Linked DNA regions of Homo sapiens: region 2 is linked to region 1. The links come from fine-mapping of genetic effects on gene expression. A gene starts in region 1. The other region holds a variant in brackets. All regions are shown on one strand. Distances are from middle to middle.

The links. PIP is the estimated chance that this variant, and not a neighbour inherited with it, causes the effect. A credible set is the group of variants that fine-mapping cannot tell apart.
Region 2: its variant is the best candidate, but not a certain one, in a credible set for the expression of HK2 in monocytes (BLUEPRINT, PIP 0.53).

What each region holds. Positions count from the first base shown.
Region 1 is chr2:74,831,233-74,836,604 of GRCh38, reverse strand. It overlaps HK2 (hexokinase 2), which reads right to left and starts at 2,478. Exons shown (of 18, transcript NM_000189.5): 1 at 1,962-2,478. The coding sequence starts at 2,024. HK2-DT (HK2 divergent transcript) reads left to right here and starts at 2,618. Exons shown (of 1, transcript NR_185897.1): 1 at 2,618-3,950. RefSeq lists enhancers at 1,037-1,106, 884-1,760 and silencers at 1,337-1,586, 2,507-2,736, 2,917-2,986.
Region 2 is chr2:74,854,683-74,860,054 of GRCh38, reverse strand. All of the region lies in intron 2 of HK2 (hexokinase 2), which reads right to left. Among named protein-coding and RNA genes, the nearest start is that of HK2, 23 kb to the right of the region's middle. RefSeq lists an enhancer at 3,870-4,410. The variant G/A (reference allele first, on the strand shown) is at 2,019.

The sequences.
Region 1 (5,372 bases):
TTCAGGGACACTTCTCAAACTGACAGGTGGCTGCAAGGGTAGAGAAAACCTACAGGAATGACAGTTGCACACTGCAGCGCTTAATAATCGCAACTCCATAAAGTGGACAAGCCTACTGTTATTATTGCATTTCACAAAGAGAAACGGGCTGTCCAAAGAGGCTCAGGGTGCTATGGTTAATAAACCACAAGACAGAGATTACAACTCATTTCCAGATACCCTGGTTAATTCCCGTTCCACTCTGGGGGAAGAGAGATGACCCCCATTCCAAGATTGAGAGTGGTATAACTCCAACGGGGTTCCAACCCTGGTGCCCTCCTCTGGATTGAGGAAGAGTAAATTTATGCAAGGATTCAAATGTCCTGGGGTAATACCCAAAGGAGAACTCCCTGAGATTAATGACGCTCCACTGTGTATTTTAGGACTTGCCAAGAGATGATAGCCTTCCCCAAGAGTTCTTAGAAGTTGAGAAGTTACCAAGATCCTGCCAGCTCAAATCAAAGGCACGTTTTTAAGTAAACTGAATCAAGGTGCAGAGCCACATCCCAGGAATTAGAGAATAACAGCCATTTACAAACAGTAAAACCCAAGTAAATCAACCGCCTCTGCTCGCTCCTCCAGACTTGAGGCTGGGTAACTTCTGCTTTTCTTGGAGGTTCACGCGCCATCACTACATTAATATGCCTCCTATGCCCTCGGGACCGCCAGAATGGGAATATGAGCAGGTTGTCGCACAGAACGGTAATGGCAAGACATTTTCCCAAAAATGTGTTCCCATCAGATATTGAAATTCCAAGTATGTAACTGAGCAACGCTCCGTTGCCTCACAGCTCTTAAAACAACCTCCCTCCAGCTAATCCCCTCCCAACTTGTCCCCTACCTCAAATCGTAGCCCAGGCCCGGGCCAGGAGCCAATCCCCTAATCCCGGGCATTTCAGAAACTCAATTCTGAGCGCGCCCCTGGCCCTGCCCGTCCCCGGCCCCGGCCCCATCCCCACCCCCATACCCCGAGGCGGGGAATGAGAGCTTCCCGGCTTGGCCTGAGGCTCTTTCTTATGTAAATGACCCGGCCGCGGTGAGCGCTCAGCCATAGGGAGCTGCGGAGCCAGGTGGGAACAGACAGGTCGAGGCTTAAGGAAAAAAAAGCTCGTTTTCGGAAGGACATAAATCTCAAGAATCTCAAGTAATCCAGGAACGCGGCGCGTTGGCCTCTCCGAGTAACTTTTAGGGCAAACCAGAAAGTAACAACCAAAGTCCTCCCCTTACTCAGAGGCAGATCCTGAGGACACGAGGCTGGGCGGTCCCGAGGCTGATTTGGAGGGGCGGGGGTTAATGGGGGACGCCCCTCGCCGAGCCTCAGTTCCGGGCGCCACAGTTCCGGGGAGGGGGCGCGGCGGGCGGAGTTCCTCTGCCCCTTTCCTACTCCTTCCCGGGTCAGCTTCTCCTCGAGCCCACCCCCGCAGGGCCGCGGGGAAGGAGAAGGGAACCGCTCGTCTCCTACACGCGGTCCGCGAGCGCGGACGGCCCCCGGCGGCCCCACGCGGCAGCGGAGCAGCCTCCCGCAGCCACGATTCTCTCCACGTGCTCTCGCCGGAACTCGCGCTGCAGAAGGGGGCTCCCTCCCACGTGGGCGCAGCAATCCCTGACTACCTGCGGGGTGACCCGCCCCTCCAGTAACAGGGAAAAAGGGACTGGGGGAGAGAGCGTGAGCGCGTGCCGGAGCTCAGGGAGGGAGGGCGCCCGGCGGAGCGCGACCTCGGCTCCCCGCCCGCGCGCACTCGCCGGCTGTGCTTAGCGGACGTGGCTCCTGGCGCCCAGGAGTGTCCCGGCTGCCCAAACTTTTTCCGCTCCCAGGCCCGGAGTAGGGAGGAAGCGGGTCCCCGCAGGGTCGAGGAAGAGACTGATGGAGGCCAGACCACTTTGCCAGAGCCCAGCCTGCCGCCCCGCCCGCGCTGACTTACCTTCTGCACTTGGTCATGGTTGAGCTCCGTGAAGAAGTAGGCAAGCAGATGCGAGGCAATCATCCTGCCGCGGCCCGACGGCGCAGAGTTGGGAAACCGAGGCGGAGACGCGAGAGGGGAGGCGGGCGGCGCGGTCCGACTGCTTTGTGCTGGGGCTCGGCTGCCGGGCCGGGAGCTGGGAGTCCGGACGGCGCACAAAGAAGGCTACCGGCGAGGGTGCGCCCGGCTGGCGGAGGGCGCGGGTCTCCGGAGACGTGATTTTGGCGTCACAACTGCTAGAAGGCGCCTCAGTTCTCTCCTGGCGACGTGTCCGGTTGTCCCACGTCAAGGCGCTAACTTCGGCCACAGGATCACTGAGGCTCAACTTGAGAAGAATCTCAGCCCGGCTCCACTCGGGCAGTGGGACCTCTCCGATTCACAGGCGCGTGGCTCGGGCCCGCGGATTTTCTTAGCTGGGTGACACGATGTTGCCAGCGGCAGCCCGGGACTCCTGCGCCGGAGTTTCATGCAACAATGTGGCTTATTGAGGGGCTGCCGGCCCGCGGGCCTCCGGATCAGTGACGTGCGCACGCCCATTGGCTGCGCGGGGAGGGTGTGTGCGCCCACGGACCGCCCGCCGCCGTGGCGCAGCCAATCATCGCTCACGGCTCGCGGGCGCGGCCGCTCAGACACCGGAGCCGGCAGCCTGGGGAGGCGCGCCGGGGGCGGGGGGCGGGGGAGGGGCGGGGCGCCTGAGATGGGACGTGTGGTCCGTGGCTAAAGGCTGGGACGGAAAGGCGCATGAGCCACCGCCGCGTCAGGCTCGGCTATGGGTGGGGGGAGCGTGATCGCGGACCCGGGGTGTGGGGCGACTGGAAAAACGGGCCTCTGGACCAGCACACGCCCTGTGCGGAGAGACACTGTCTGGCATCTCGGGATCATGTGAGGGGCTCCCACTGCCCAGTCACACGTCTAAAGCATCCTAGTTCTTACCTATTGTAGCACGGCCGGAAAGTGAGCCGCCTTAGCTGCTGATTGTACTAGAGCAGGCAATACAAGAGTCGGCCCATCCTCAAAACCACTGATAGGATGTGAGTTTCACTAACCCCGTTTTACAGATGAGGAAATTGAGGCAAGGCCAGGGCTCACACCTGTAATCCCAGCACTTTGGGAGTCCAAGGTTGGAGGGTTGCTTGAGACCAGGAGTTCATGACCAGCCTGGGCGACATAGTGAGACCCCCATCTTCCCAAATAAAAATAAATAAATCAGCCGGACATGGTGGCATGTGCCTGTAGTCCCTGCTGCTCAGAAGGCTAAGGTGGAAGGATAGCTTGAGCCCAGGAGTTCGAGGCTGCAGTGAGCTATGATCATACCACTGTACTCCAGCCTAGGTGACAGAGGGAGACCCTGTCTCAAAAAGAAAAGAGACTTACACGAGGTCACATAGCTAATAAGTGGCAGATAGGGAAGAGAACCCTTGTCCCTCTACTTTAAGGCCCTATTCGCTTGCCCCATTATCCCATGCTGCCTCTCTAAGAGCCAGAGAAGTAGGAGGTAGAAAAAGAGCATCTCTGCAGCTCTGGGACTGATGATGTGAATGAACTGGGTAGATGGTAAGTGTGTAACTGGGTGATCTTGGACATGGGATGGGGTGGGTGAGGAGGCTTACCAATGCTGAGAGGAGTGGAAGCTCCAACCCCAGCTAATGCTAGACACCAGACTCCAAATTTAAACACACAGTGGAAACTGGCAAGAATGAAATACTGACTTCAATACAGATTTCAAGAGACATGACATTAGCACTGGTGGAGAATGGCAAGCCTAAGGTTGGAAAAGGTTCAGGGAAGGAAGATGAAGGTCTGCCATGTTCTACTGAGGAGGAGTTTTTCAAACAGTGGGGTGCTGTCTGCAATGTGTACAGCCTTAAAATTATTATATAAGTAATCAATACTCATTGTTGAAAAATAATATATGGATAAACAGGAAAAATAAACAAAAATCATAATCCATCTAGCCTCTCAGCAAAACTTCCTTTTTTTTTTTTTTAAAGCAGGGACTCGATATGTTGCCCAGGCTGGTCTTGAACTCCTGGGCTCAAGCAGTCCTCCCACTTCAGCGTCCCAAATAGCTGGGATTACAGATGTGCTCAGCAAAACTTCTTGAGAACTATGTACCCTTCTAAATGCACGTCCTCAACCCTCCTTCCCTATACTCCACACAGAATTGAGCTCAAACTGCTTTTGTCATAGTCATCATAATGACCTACATGTTGCCAAATCTTGCATTCTCTTCTCTTCCCTGCCCTTGTCTTACTCCTTCTCTCAGGGATGTTGAGGACAGTTAATCACATCCTCCATCTGGACACACCTTCCTCTCTCAGTAAGAGCACCAGTGCTCCACTCTGAGGGTTTCTGGCTAACCTCACTCCCCAGGCTCCTGAGTCCCTGTTTGCTCTATTGGTAAATGCTGGGGTATTCGGGGCTGCCCTCCACCCTCTTCTCTGAACTAGTTACAGTTTCAAACTCCCTGAGGAGAAACTAACTTCCTAGCCCCATGACTGTTATATCATATGCATGCTGATGACTCACCATAGTAAATCTACAGCGAGGTCCTCTCCTGGAGTTGCAGGCTTATTTCTCCAGCTTGCCATTTGTCATCTCCACTGAAGTGACTAGCATATCACACTTAACATGTCCAAAGCTGAACTCAACTTTTTTTCCCAAATCTTTTTCTTTCCCAGTTGTCTCAGCAAATGGCATCGCCATCCACCCTAACTCGTCTTCGATTCCTTCTTGCCACTCACCCTCACAGCCAGTCAATCCATCAGCAAGCAGTTAATTCCACCTATAAAACAGACCGTGCATCTGACCACTTATCTCCATGCCCTTAGACACCTCCTGAGATCTTCCCACAGAATACTGCTTGGCATTCACACTAGCATGCTTTCCTCAAAAATACAAACTCTTTCTCACCCAAGGGTCTTTGCTCTTCCTTTTCCTTCTATCTAGAATATTCTTCTCCAGGCCTGTCTCCAACTCATTCTTCCTCCTCATTGACGTTCCACTCAGATACCTCCTCATGATGCAGGGCAGGCAGGCCCCAAAATTTGGACTTAGCCTGGGAAGATTTTTGGCTTCACCCAGTAAAGAATTCAAGGGATGCCGGGCGCGGTGGCTCACACCTGTAATCCCAGCACTTTGGGAGGCTGAGGTGGACGGATCACGAGGTCAGGAGATCGAGACCATCCTAGCTAACACGGTGAAACCCCATCTCTACTAAAAAAAAAAAAAATACAAAAAATTAGGCGTGGTGGCGGGCTCCTGTAGTCCCAGCTACTCGGGAGGCTGAGGCAGGAGAATGGCGTGAACCCGGGAGGCGGAGCTTGCAGTGAGCCGAGATCGCGCCACTGCACTCCAGCCTGGGCAACAGAA
Region 2 (5,372 bases), 23 kb before region 1:
CACTTAAAATAACAGCCTCCAGTTCCATCCATGATGCTGCAAAATACATTATTTCATTCTATTTTAAGACTGAACAGTATTCTATTATGTATATATACCACAGTTTCTTTATCCAATCATCTGTCCATTGATGGGCATCGACTCCACATCTTTGCTATTGTGAATGGTGCTGTGATAAACATACAAGTGCAGGCATCTTTTTGGTATGATTTCTTTTCCTTTGGGTAGATACTCAATAGTGAGATTGCTGGATGGAATGGCAGTTCTATTTTTAGTTCTTTGAGAAATCTCCATACTGTTTTCCATAGAGGATGTACTTATTTACATTCCCACCAACAGTGTATAAGCATTCCCTTTTCTGATGGAGGTTGTATTAAACAGGTGTATTTGTCAATTCATCAGATAATACTCTTTTTTTTTGAGATGGAGTCTCGCTCTGTGGCCCAGGCTGGAATGCTCTGCCTCCCGGGTTCACACCATTCTTCCTGCTTCAGCCGCCTGCCACCACGCCTGGCTAATTTTTTGTATTTTTAGTAGAGACAGGGTTTCACCGTGTTAGCCAGGATGATCTCGATCTCCTGACCTTGTGATCTGCCCGCCTCAGCCTCCCAAAGTGCTGGGATTGCAGGCATGAGACACCATGCCCGGCCTTCTATTTATTTTTTTATCAGATAATACTCTTAAGATTTATTTCACTTCATCTAGATCTTACATCACAAGAAAATACAGCAAATATTGAACTCTAGTTACTATGTAAGTATACGTCTGAACCCTAAAACTTCAGCATACATAGTAACTAGAGTTCAGTATTAGTATTTACTATACTTTCTCAGCAATTTATGTTTTGTAATGCATCAATTATAACAAGCTGGACTGATGGATAGAAGGATTGGGGGGTTGATAAAGCAAACCAAGTAAAATATAGATGACCACTATAGAATTCTTTCAACTTCTTAAAACTGTTTGGGAAAGAAGCAAAACGACAAATAGAGACCATTTTTAATGTATTCTGGCTGACACCAAATTCAGTCATTGAGTAAGACATTCCTGGACCGTTTATGTCTATTGCACTTTTAATTATGCCAACTGTGTTTCTTCACACTGTGTAGGCCACACAACCTATGAAGCACAGGTACTTCACGATTTACCTTGAACATTTCACCCCTACGGGGTTCAGTGGCTACTGACATTCCCTGCCTTCTCACACAAGAGCCCATAAGCCGTGATGGGGAGGCCTCCACCACAAATAAATGGCCTGAAACTTTCTGGTTTCTCCACATTTTCTAATAGGACTTTGATTACAATTAGATAATTGGAGCTGGTATAAGAGCTGGGGCCTGGTCTTCACTCCAAAATGCAGGGCCCCTGGTGATGGGGATGAACCCTCACACCTGCTCCCTTGATGCCAATCTTCCAAAATTAAAACCTGGGAGTCTTACACACCTTTTCTTAGTAAATTTGGCAATGAGAGTGCCTTTTGCAGTGGTGGTTTGTGGCTGCAGGAGTGTTTGTAACACATGTGAGAAAGTCACATATCTGATTCTCCCTTAATTCTCAGAAAACCGATCCCCCTGAAGTTTCCCCTTTTCACAAATGAGGAAATAGAGGATCACATCATAAATCGCTCTGAAGCACACAGCTTGAATTCAAACCCATTTGAACCTATAATTCTGATTCTCACCTCTCACCCCACACTGTCCTGAAACTACATATTTCGTGCCAGCAAGAAAGGAAATGCTCATCTAGAATCAAACTGGGCCAAGGATCATTTAAGGCAGTGGCTTTCAAACTGCAAAGTGAAAAACATTTAGCAGGTTCTGACTAGCAACTTTCTTAAAGAATAGAAGACAAACCCAACTTCATCATGTTTAAGAATAAATTCTGGTCCCCAAATTTATTTCCTTTCATATAAATATTTATATGCATGTGTTTCTTGCTGTGAAGATATAGCCCAGAAAAGTTAGAAAGCTATGGATTTAAAAATTGGCTCCCTCTAGATCTGGGGTTTGGTTTCTCAG[G/A]TTTGAAAAGAATACTAGCCATGAACGGGCTGAGAAACGAATGTTCTGAGAAAGGTGGCACTGAACAGGTGCCCCTGGAGAAAAGGCCTCGAGCCTTCTGTGGGAGAGGGATGCAGCTTCACCCCCAGCAGCAGCGGCAGGCACCCAGGCTGTGTGCGACCACATGGGGGGAATCGCTAACACAACTTCACCTCGGCCTTTCCTCGCAGCACTTCACTGGGGTGCTGACAATAGAGAATTTTCATTTTTGATAGTCTGTATCAACTTAGGAGTCACCTATTTTCACTGCCATATTCCATAACTCATACCCCCAACTGACAAAGCAAAACTTGAGAGCCCTGATGCTGACCACTTTATTTTTTTTAAATTTATCTATTTTTGTTTGTTTTTTGAGACAGAGTCTCATGCTGTCACCCAGGCTGGAGTGCAGTGGCGCAACTTCGGCTCACTGCAACCTCCATCTCCCAGGTTCAGGTGATTGATTCTCTCTGCCTCGGCCTCCTGAGTAGCTGGGATTATAGGTGCGATTAAGCAACACTGTAATGAACATTATTCAGCCATGTCTCCTTGGATTCATACAGGAGTCTGTTCAGGGCATATAGTTGGAAGTGGAATTGCTGAGTTGTCATATATACATATGTCCCACTTTACAGCAACACAAAAATGAACTAAGACACCATCCAATGAACACCAAGGGTTTATCTCCCATTACAGGATCTCAGAAGTGTTTGTGTGAATAGACTAGCACAATAGTTCTAGTAGATGTGCAGAACAGACTAGAACTGCTAGGTCCAACCTCTTTACTTTACAAAAGCAAAGGCTGAGTCCCAGAGAGTATGGAGGTGAGGAGCTAACCTATGGACCCCCTGCAAATGCGGAGGGAGGGATTAGGTGTGGGTTTCCTGCAATCTGGTCTCCATTATTCCAGGGGCCACTTCCTTTGTTTCAGTGAGTAAGACATTCCAGTATGTGCTGCAAACAGTGCAAGCTTCAAGGTGCATGGGAGGTCTTGGAGCCTCCAGCTTCAGGAAAGCAATGAGAATTTTGAAAGCTTGCCCCATAATTAGTTCTCCCCAACAAACTTAATTCACCTGCCTATAATACAGTCCAAACAATCAGTCCCAACTCCGTTCCAAAAAAATTTTAGTTGAGCATTTGCAGTGTGCTCCAGCGCCAAGTGCACAGGCTAACACATACATGAACACATATAACACATCACGTGCAGTACCGATGCCTGAACTTTGGCTTACACAAGCTTGATTCCTAACTCGGCCTCCCACTGGCTGTAGGATTTTGGACAACTTGTTTGACATTTGAACCTCAAATTCCTCATCTAAAAATTGTGGATAAAATTTGTACTTACCATAAAGGTTTTTGAAAAGTAAATGAGTTAATACATTGAGGTGCCCAAAAGAGTCCTTAGCCCATATGTATTTAGAAAAGATTTAGGGTACTTACTTAGTGTTAGTGCTGGGTGAAATAAAGACAAGGCCCTGGCCTTCCGGAGTGTGTACATTTATCTGAATGTCAAATAAAAATCTCAGAAGTGGGTGTGGTTTCCAGTCAGAGGGAGTGGTAGGTAAACATGCCAATCTAGAGGACATGGAAGAGATAAGAGGCCCCTCACCTCGAGGGGCTCTTTGAAGGGCCAAGAAACACACTCAGGAAACAATCCTAAGCAAGGTCATACCCTCAGCACTGGGTCCAGGCTGGGTCCCAAGGCTTCAGCAAACACTTACTTATTTTGGGAACGATACAGTCTCAGACGAACCAGGTCCCTAGAGGCACTTAGGGAGATGAGCCTCAAGGACACACATGTGCTGGAAACAGCACAGGCGCGTGGCATTAACAAGCCCTGACCCACGCCCTGCCCCTACTCCCCTCCCAACAACGCCCCTGTAGATGCCTCACCAGCGACCTGCCAGCTTCCTGGAGATCTCGTCCCCCTTAGATTCTTGGACACTGTGCCTCCTGGTTCTTCCTCTGCCCTGGCAGCTGCCCCTTGGGTTCTCTCTCCTGTCCTCTAGATGTGAGTACCTACCCCCCACCCACCACCCGTCATGGGCCTCACAAGCACCTCATCTCTAAAATGGAGGCACCTATTATGAGGATTAAATAAAAGCTCTGACACAACTTTGTTCGGTCCCCTTCTCTGGGATGTTGCCATTCCCAGGCAGCTGGGCTCAACAGCCGGGCCCCACCCTTGAATACTCTTTTTGCCCACCCACCAGAGCCATGTCTTGTGCTCTACCAGCTGGGCCTCGCTCCCCCTCCACTCTACCTATACTGCCAATGATGTAACATTACCAAGACACCCCTCAAAACCTTGCATTTACTCCCCAATGCTACTGCAGAGATTAAATGTTTTAGGCTTGCATTCAAGGCCTTCAGTGACCTAGCCCTAATCCACTGGACCTTTCCAACTTGAATCTCCACCGTGATCCTTTTTCCCCTGCCTGATTAAATCACTTGCTGGGTGGTGTACCATAAAATAAGGATTCTGGGCTGGGTGCGGTAGCCACGCCTGTAATCCCAGCACTTTGGGAGGCCGAGGTGGGCGGGTACGAGGTCAAAAGATATAGACCATTCTGGCTAATGGAGATCACGCCACTGCGCTCTAGCCTGGGTGACAGAGCGAGACTCCATCTCAAAAAAAAGTACTCTGTATCCAAATAAGATGATTAAACAAAGCTTAATAGGTTTGTATTGCAGGACTTCTGAGCCTTTAATTCCTTAATATGCACTGTGGCAGCGGGCGCGGTAGCTGTAATCCTAGCACTTTGGGAGGCTGAAGCGGGCGGATCACCTGAGGTCAGGAGTTCGAGACCAACCTGACCAACATGAGAAACCCCATCTCTACTAAAAATACAAAATTAGCCGGGCTTGGTGGCACATGCCTGTAATCCCAGCTACTCCAGAGGGTGAGGCAGGAGAATCACTTGAACCCAGGAGGCGGAGGTTGCGGTGAGCCGAGATCGCATCATTGCACGCCAGCCTGGGCAACAAGAGTGAAACTGTCTCAAAAAAATATATATATATGCACTGTGACGCTCCATACTTTGTCCAAGTCTATTTGGATTTCTAGTACTTTTTACATGGGGCTCAAGAAAAAAATCTAGGTCAATCTGCACTACACTGTCCCTCCCACATGCCTACACGGCGTCCGGCGTCCCAGTTAGAGCATGCACAGGTGAGCCACAGAGCGGCTCCCACGGCCTACAGTTGTGGCCACGTGAGGTACGTTTGTTGTAGTTCATCACCATCACTGCGTGCAATCTCAGTGGGACCATAAAATGCCAAACTGAGCCAAGCAGCCTTTCTCAGCACACAGGTAGAAAACAAATGGCCAACAGT